Homo sapiens: one gene and its partner. The protein of the gene in region 1 purifies or fractionates together with the protein of each later gene. This does not show direct contact. Each region holds a gene or a part of one and is shown in the gene's direction. Other genes may lie near its edges.

Region 1 (3,813 bases):
ATGGTCTGAATCTCCTGACCTCGTGATCCGCCCGCCTCTGCCTCCCAAAGTGCTGGGATTACAGGCGTGAGCCACCGTGCCCGGCCTTTTTTTTTTTTTTTTTCCTCAATTGAGACAGGGTCTTGCACTGTCCCCTAGGCTGGAGAGCAGTGACATGATCTTAGCTCACTGCAGTCTAACTCCTGAGCTCAAGCAATCTTCCCGCCTTAGCCTCCTGAGTAGCTGGGACCACAAGTGTGCACCACCATGCCTGGCTAATTTTTAATTTTTTGTTGAGATGGGGTCTCACCATGTTGCCCAGGCTGGTCTCACACTCCTCGGCGCAAACAAGACCCCCACCTCAGCCTCCCAAAGTGCTGGGATTACTGGGGTGAGCCACTGTGCCCAGCTGAAAACGTGAGTCTTAATGCTTCCCCCACAGACCATGACTGTGAATGTTATGTTTATGCTCTTCCTTGCCAGTGTCCATTCAACTAATATTTATTGAGCCAGGCATTGTCTTAGGGACTGGGGATACAGCCGTGGACAAGACAGGTCCCTGCCTTTGCAGAGGTCTTTCTGAGGGGCTCTTCCCCTGCCCTTCCCCCTGAATGACTGTACAAGGAATCCCTAATAAAGACACACCCTCTGGCAGGAGAACACAGACATTGAAGTCTGTCTTCCAGGTGGGAAAGTCTAGCCTTGTTGGGAGGCAGAGGATATGTCCGAGGTCATTGTTGGTGTTAACAGTTCCTTCCCTGTCTCCCCAAAACAGGAAGATGTGTATAATGTGCCCTGTTTGCATGTTCTGTCCCTGTGGGTTGAAAAAGCTTATCCTTAGTCAGCCTGCTTGAGCCTGCCACAACAGACTGTCAACAGACTTGCCACAAGAGTTTTTGCCGTCAGCATCAGTTTTCTTGCCACTGGGTATTGGGTTTAGTCTTCAGATTTAAAACCACCTTAACTGAGTGCTGCTCTCAGGGACCCTTTGGGACCCTGCCACTCCCATCCTGTGGCACAGTAATCTTATCTGTCCCTTTGTTTCCAGGTGTAAAGAAGAAGCCCGCCGGGCATGCCGAGCAGGAAAGAAGCAGCTGGTGAGTTCTTGTCTCCTCCAGACCCATAGCAGTGCCCCAGGCAGGCCTGGAGCAATGCCCAGCAGTTCAGAGAGCAGCTTGCTGGGGTTTTGAGGGGGGTAGAGTCTGCAGGGGGCCCAGGCACCACAGCTTATTTTACAGATGGGAGGGAAGAAAGCTGGGACATCCTTAGCGTCTGGGAAGGGCTGTCTTCCTCTTGCCCTTTGGCTCGCCCAGTTCAGCACTGACCTAAGTCTCCATGCCTCCAGGCACTGAGGTCTCTCAAGGCCAAGCAACGGACAGAGAAGCGCATCGAGGCCTTGCATGCCAAGCTGGACACTGTTCAAGGCATCCTGGACCGGATCTATGCCTCCCAGACAGATCAGATGGTAGTCACTCCCCTCTACTCCAGCACTTGGCTGGTCTCTCCGTGTGTGTTGGTCACTTGCAGCTTCGGCTTGGCTGTTTGGAGGATCCCTGGGTTCTTTCGGGATGTGGCTGGGGTTGCCTTTGCCTTTCCAGTCAGGAGGTTTGGCCTCGGTGGGTATAGGGTAAATTGAGCTTGGGTGCCAAAAAAAACACCCCAAAGCTGCCTTTTGGAGTTGAAACAATATTGTATGTATTTTGCCAAATGTCTGTCATTTGCACTGATAGCTTTGCTTTGTCTTTAGGTTTTTAACGCCTACCAGGCTGGGGTAGGAGCACTCAAACTCTCCATGAAGGATGTCACAGTGGAGAAGGCAGAGAGCCTCGTGGATCAGATCCAAGAGGTACAGAAAGGGGCCAGGGAGGGACACACAGAGAAGGAGGTGACAGAGGACAGATTTGACTTCATTGCACATCCTCTTTAACGAAACCTGACTTGTGACCTTGTGAACTTGAGGAAGCTTTCCTTGATTCTCACTTGGGGCAGGATTGCTTTGTAACCCTAGATATTTTCCACCAAAGACTGAGATGCTCAGAGCCACCATGCCCAGCTCAAGGCTTTGCACTTGTCTCTTACAGCTCTGTGACACCCAGGATGAAGTTTCTCAGACTCTGGCTGGTGGGGTAACAAATGGCTTAGGTGAGTGGACAAGGTGGTTATTTTTATTTTTATTCATTTTTTTTTTTTTTTTTTTTTTTTGAGACGGAGTCTCGCTCTGTCGCCCAGGCTGGAGTGCAGTGGCGGGATCTCGGCTCACTGCAAGCTCCGCCTCCCGGGTTCACGCCATTCTCCTGCCTCAGCCTCCCAAGTAGCTGGGACTACAGGCGCCTGCCACTATGCCCGGCTAATTTTTTGTATTTTTAGTAGAGACGGGGTCATTTTTTTTTTTTTTAGATGGAGTCTCACTCTGTCACCTAGGCTGGAGTGCAGTGACGCATTCTCGGCTCGCTGCAACCTCCGCCTCCTGGGTTCAAGTGATTCTCCTGCCTCAGCCTCCTGAGTAGCTGGGATTATAGGCGCCCGCCACCACGCCTGGCTAATTTTTGTATTTTTAGTAGAGATGGGGTTTCACCTGTTGGTCAGGCTGGTCTGGAACTCCTGACCTCGTGATCCGCCGGCCTCGGCCTCCCAAAGTGCTGGGGTTACAGGTGTGAGCCACCACACCTGGCCCAAGGTGAGTGTTTCTTCCTTTCATCCTGGAAGACTTCGCTTCCCTGTGCTGTGATGAGTTTGACAGTAGATTTGCTTTTCCGGGTGCAGGCAGGCCTCTCCTAGCCTGCCCTCCCTGGGGCTCATCTGCGGGAGCAGTCAGGGAATTGCCATTTCCTCCTCGACAGCTGTGCTCATGACCCATCTGTGCTGCGGCATTCCTCATTCACAAGGCTTCTGACTGGAGGATCCTCCTTCAAGGGCAGTGGGAATCAGGGTCAGGTCCATGGTGTTAACAGAATACACCTCCTTGGTGACTTAGCTTGGAGTGTGGAAGAATCATCTCTGCTTGAAGCTACCCTCCTGACTTCCGGGATTTTTTTTTAATCTGCAAGGAGGCCTGGCATCTTTTGTAAAGCTAAGCGGGTTTTGGTAACCTCAGTCCTGTACTCATTAATGCATTTCTCCCTTGAGTTTATGCATCTTTATGTTGTCTTTTCTTTCCAGATTTTGACAGTGAAGAACTGGAGAAGGAATTGGACATCCTCCTTCAGGATACCACCAAAGAACCTTTGGATCTGCCTGACAACCCCCGCAATAGGCATTTTACCAACAGCGTGCCTAACCCTAGGATCTCAGATGCTGAACTTGAAGCTGAACTTGAGAAACTGTCCTTATCAGAGGGAGGTATGGAGCTGTTTTCCAAGGCCTTTGGAGGGCATATGGCCTTCTGGCTGACAGAGTTGATGGGCCCAAGCCCAATTACTCCATTTGCCAGAGTACCAGAGCCCTGTAGGGAGTTGAGGGTTGTTTATATTAAGACTCAGTCTCTTAATCACTGGAATGCCTTCATCTTCAAGATTTTCCTGTTATAGTGTTCAGTCATTTCTTTGCCTTGCAGGTTTGGTCCCAAGCAGTAAATCTCCAAAAAGGCAATTGGAACCGACTCTAAAGCCATTGTAGGACCCTCAAGTGAAGGACCCTCATGTAAAAGAGAGACCAGGCTTGCTGGGTGTGTACATAGTTATTTAAACAAGAAACTCTCAGAATGTGTTTGGAAGAGGAGAAAGGAGAACCACTGATTTTATCTGGATGCTACTACTTACTACAGGACAGATAGAATTTCTGGAAGCGATGCTCCAAAGGCTTGCTCCCAGCTGTATCATGGACCTGCCTTCTCAT
Region 2 (3,813 bases), on another chromosome or scaffold:
CACGTTCTTGGCCAGGCTGGTCTTGAACTCCTGACCTCAAGTGATCCGCCTGCCTTGGCCTCCCAAAGTGCTGAGATTGCAGGCATGAGCCACCACACCCAGCTAAATGTCTCTTTTTGAATGATTCAAATAAGTGATCTGTGCTCATCGTCCTCTTCTACATTCTAGATTTGTTTTTATTTATTTTTTTTCCACAAAAGAGAAAGCACAAAAGTGTGTAACTTATATTCTGACCCATACTTCTTCCCCTGTCTTGTCCTCTTAACATTACTTCCCACTGGTTTGATGGACCATTCTTGCGATGTGAGTGCCTGGAGCTTCCACTTTGAAATAGTGAGGGCTGTGGACTGAAGAACGAGGTTCCCGTTCCAATGAGGGGTGTCTTAGAGCTCCCTCGCCTGCTGTGCTCAGTGTCTCATGCACTTGTTTATTTTTCCTCTTGCAGAGGTGGAATTTAATGTATCAGAAGCATTTGTACCTCTCACCACCCCGAGTTCTAATCACTCATTCCACACTGGAAACGACTCTGACTCGGGGACCCTGGAGAGGAAGCGGCCTGCTAGCATGGCGGTGATGGAAGGAGACTTGGTGAAGAAGGAAAGGTATGATTTGACCGTTCACTTCCAAACCAGCAGTAAATATGTTGTTAGACCCGTGGTATCTGGTATCGCTCAGTGGACTTGGGATTTGAGAGTGGTCGCCATCCACCCATGACTGATGGTGTCCAGATAGTTTCTGGAATTCTGCTGTAGGTCATTCCAAGCACTAATCTCACCATAAAGTCAGTGTGTAGCTTCTCAGTTAACGTTTCTTCCACGTGTATTCCAGCTTAACTTGGTGGTGTGCTTGGTAAGCCCTGCAGTGGAACGGCATCATACACATGTTAAAAGTGACCCAGATGTACGTGAGTGGGGGGAAACAGAAAGGAAAATAAATTCAATAGTGTGGACTTTTGTCCAGAATTGAGTGTGAGAACACCCACCTGGCACAGTGAGTTGAGTGATTTGGCGTTTAAGGAGACATATTTCTGGTATAATGTGGCCCCACAATGGAAGCCAACCACTGAATTTGATGTTCAGTGGGAAAAACCTCAGTATTTGCCAATTCTAGAAGAAAAAAAAATGGCAGTGTTGAACTTAGTGAGAAGCAGTGTGTCTCTATATACTCTTTTCTATGGGCAATTCATGGGATTTTCAAGGGTGATTAAGACTGTTTGTAATTTGTGCCTTTGGATGCCAACCTGTCCCATGTGTGTGATGAAATGCCACTGTACTCACTAGGAATGCTAACAGTTAAGAGGCCTGTTGGAAGTAATATGCTTTTCTTGGTATATTAAATAATACTACTAGAAATAGTTTTACATTAAAACGAAGTGACAAGCTCTTATTTTAATTGCTCAGTCTTATAGTGAGGTGTGCTGTTTGTTTCTTGTTCTTTGTATTGCATTTTTTACCCCTAGCAAAGGAGAATGCATTATTCTGTCCCTATTCTGTCCTTCCAAAATCCACATTTATTCTATGCAGACGTATTACCTCTCTGAACCCTCATTCATACATTCAGTAGTATTTCCTGATGACAGACTCTACCTGTAACAAAATTAGCTTTCATATATTTTAAGTTACAGAATACAGTGCATGAGTCTAGTTAGCACGTGACAGACAATTCTCAGTTACCTGCCTTGTGTATTCTCCCTGCCAGCTGACCCAGTAAGCACGAGCTCAAGAAGCCAGGTATCTTTTTACTTTTTGAACTGAAAGAAAAAGTTGTTAAGTTCATAGATCAGTCGCCTTAAGTGAAAAGTCAGCCTTCCTTCCACCCTCTCCAGCCACATCCAGCCACCATTCCCTTCCCCAAAGCAACGGCTTTTTCCAGTCTTTTTGGTTTTTGTTTTTTTGAGACAGGGTTATGTGCCCAGGCTAGAGTGCAGTGGTATGATCATGGCTCACAGCAGCCTTGACCTCCTGGGCTCAGGCAGCCCTCCCACCTCACACACCTGACTAGCTGGGACTATAGGCACGCACCACCTCACGCAGCTAATTTTCTAAAAAAATAGTTTTTTGTAGAGACAGGGCCTCACGATGTTTCCCAAGCTGGTCTTGAATTTCCAAGCTAAAGCGATCCTCCCACCTTGTCCTCCCAAAGTGCTAAGATTACAGGTGTGAGCTACCATGCCCAGCTTTTCCAGCCTTATGTACCTTTCACATGTAGTCTGCATATGCACATAGGATTGTTTCTACATCTCATCTCAGTTAAGAGGCAGTGTGGTGTGATAACCTTACACTGCCATTGGTAGGCCTTCTGGACTTGACTTCTGTGTCATTCCCCAAAAACAGATTTGAGATGGGAACTAGGAAGTATGGAAATAGGCCGGATGTGGTGACTTATGCCTGTAATCCCAGCACTTTGAGAGACCAAGGCAGGAGGAATACTTGAGGCCAGGAGTTTGACATCAGCCTGGGCAATGTAGTGAGACCGCATCTCTACAAAAAAAAATTTTTTTTTAGTATCCCAGTATGGTGATGTGTGCCAGTAGTCCAAGCTGCTCCAGAGGCTGAGGCTGGAGGATTGTTTGAGCCCAGGAGTTTGGCACTGTAGTGAGCTATGATTGCTCCACTGGAGTGCCAAGCACTCCAGCCTGGGTGGTGGAGTGAGACCACATGTCTAAAGGGGGAAAAAAACAGCAGAGGAAGTATGGGGATAAACACACTAACATGATGTCATTCAAGATGAGGCCTGCCTATTTGCTTTTAGCTGCTCACACCCAAATTGATCAAAGACATTGAACAGTACCAGGTTCATTGGCTTTGCTCAGGCTTGAAGCCGAGTGGAGTTGCTCAGGGGTGGCCATTAGTCTGGTCCTTGCCGCTTCACTGCATGCCGGGCAGCTTGGGTGGCTATCCCCATGTGTGGTTTTAACACATGTGGACCGATGGGCTTCTGTCTCAGTAGTCTGCTCGCATGGTGTGTTGACTGTTTCTTCTCTCTGTGTAGCTTTGGTGTGAAGCTTATGGACTTCCAGGCCCACCGGCGGGGTGGCACTCTAAATAGAAAGCACATATCCCCCGCTTTCCAGCCGCCACTTCCGCCCACAGATGGCAGCACCGTGGTGCCCGCTGGCCCAGAGCCCCCTCCCCAGAGCTCTAGGGCTGAAAGCAGCTCTGGGGGTGGGACTGTCCCCTCTTCCGCGGGCATACTGGAGCAGGGGCCGAGCCCAGGCGACGGCAGGTAAGGAGGCTGACTTCTGCTGGCAGTGGAGGCTGGACGCCCCAGCCTTCTTGCAGGTGGTGGCCTTTGAGCACGGCATCCATGCCCAAAGAACTGCTCCAGCATGGAGTGAACAGATTTACTTTCACTCCTCTGGTTGGCAAAAGATGGAAAAAAAGACTATGAATGGCTCGCTTCTTTTTATGTTTTCCAAAGAAAGCAACATTGGTTTGCATTCTTTGCCACACTGCTTTGGTGCTGGAAACCGGAAGCCAGTGGATGTCTCATAGTGTGATGAGCCTCTGTCACCTGTTGGATGTATACTGTCAGCATTCATGTACCTTCTGTTCATTGTCATCCAGTGTGCTAACCAGGAAGCATTTGAGTGTGGCAAGTTAGTTAAATTTTCGTATTCCTGGCATTTATTCACCCATTCGTTGATTGATTCAGTGAAACAGATTTACTGAGTCACTGATATGTGCTAGGCACATGAGGTGACTAAGACTCCACTCCACACCCCCAGATTTCAGTCTTGTAGGGCAGTTGATCCATGAGTCCAAGGTGGAAAATAAGATGGTAGCTTTTCTTTTTTCTTTTTTTTTTTTTTTT

Evidence for each region.
Region 2: the proteins of CHMP7 (region 1) and ARHGAP17 fractionate together in Homo sapiens (co-fractionation; one large-scale study listed by BioGRID). This does not show direct contact.

What each region holds. Positions count from the first base shown.
Region 1 is NC_000008.11:23,257,006-23,260,818, forward strand, and holds part of CHMP7 (charged multivesicular body protein 7), read left to right. Parts: intron 1-1,027; coding exon 1,028-1,076; intron 1,077-1,324; coding exon 1,325-1,444; intron 1,445-1,726; coding exon 1,727-1,825; intron 1,826-2,060; coding exon 2,061-2,121; intron 2,122-3,138; coding exon 3,139-3,318; intron 3,319-3,532; coding exon 3,533-3,594; 3' UTR 3,595-3,813. UniProt on the Homo sapiens protein: ESCRT-III-like protein required to recruit the ESCRT-III complex to the nuclear envelope (NE) during late anaphase. Together with SPAST, the ESCRT-III complex promotes NE sealing and mitotic spindle disassembly during late anaphase.
Region 2 is NC_000016.10:24,938,776-24,942,588, reverse strand, and holds part of ARHGAP17 (rho GTPase-activating protein 17), read left to right. Parts: intron 1-445; coding exon 446-602; intron 603-2,991; coding exon 2,992-3,225; intron 3,226-3,813. UniProt on the Homo sapiens protein: Rho GTPase-activating protein involved in the maintenance of tight junction by regulating the activity of CDC42, thereby playing a central role in apical polarity of epithelial cells.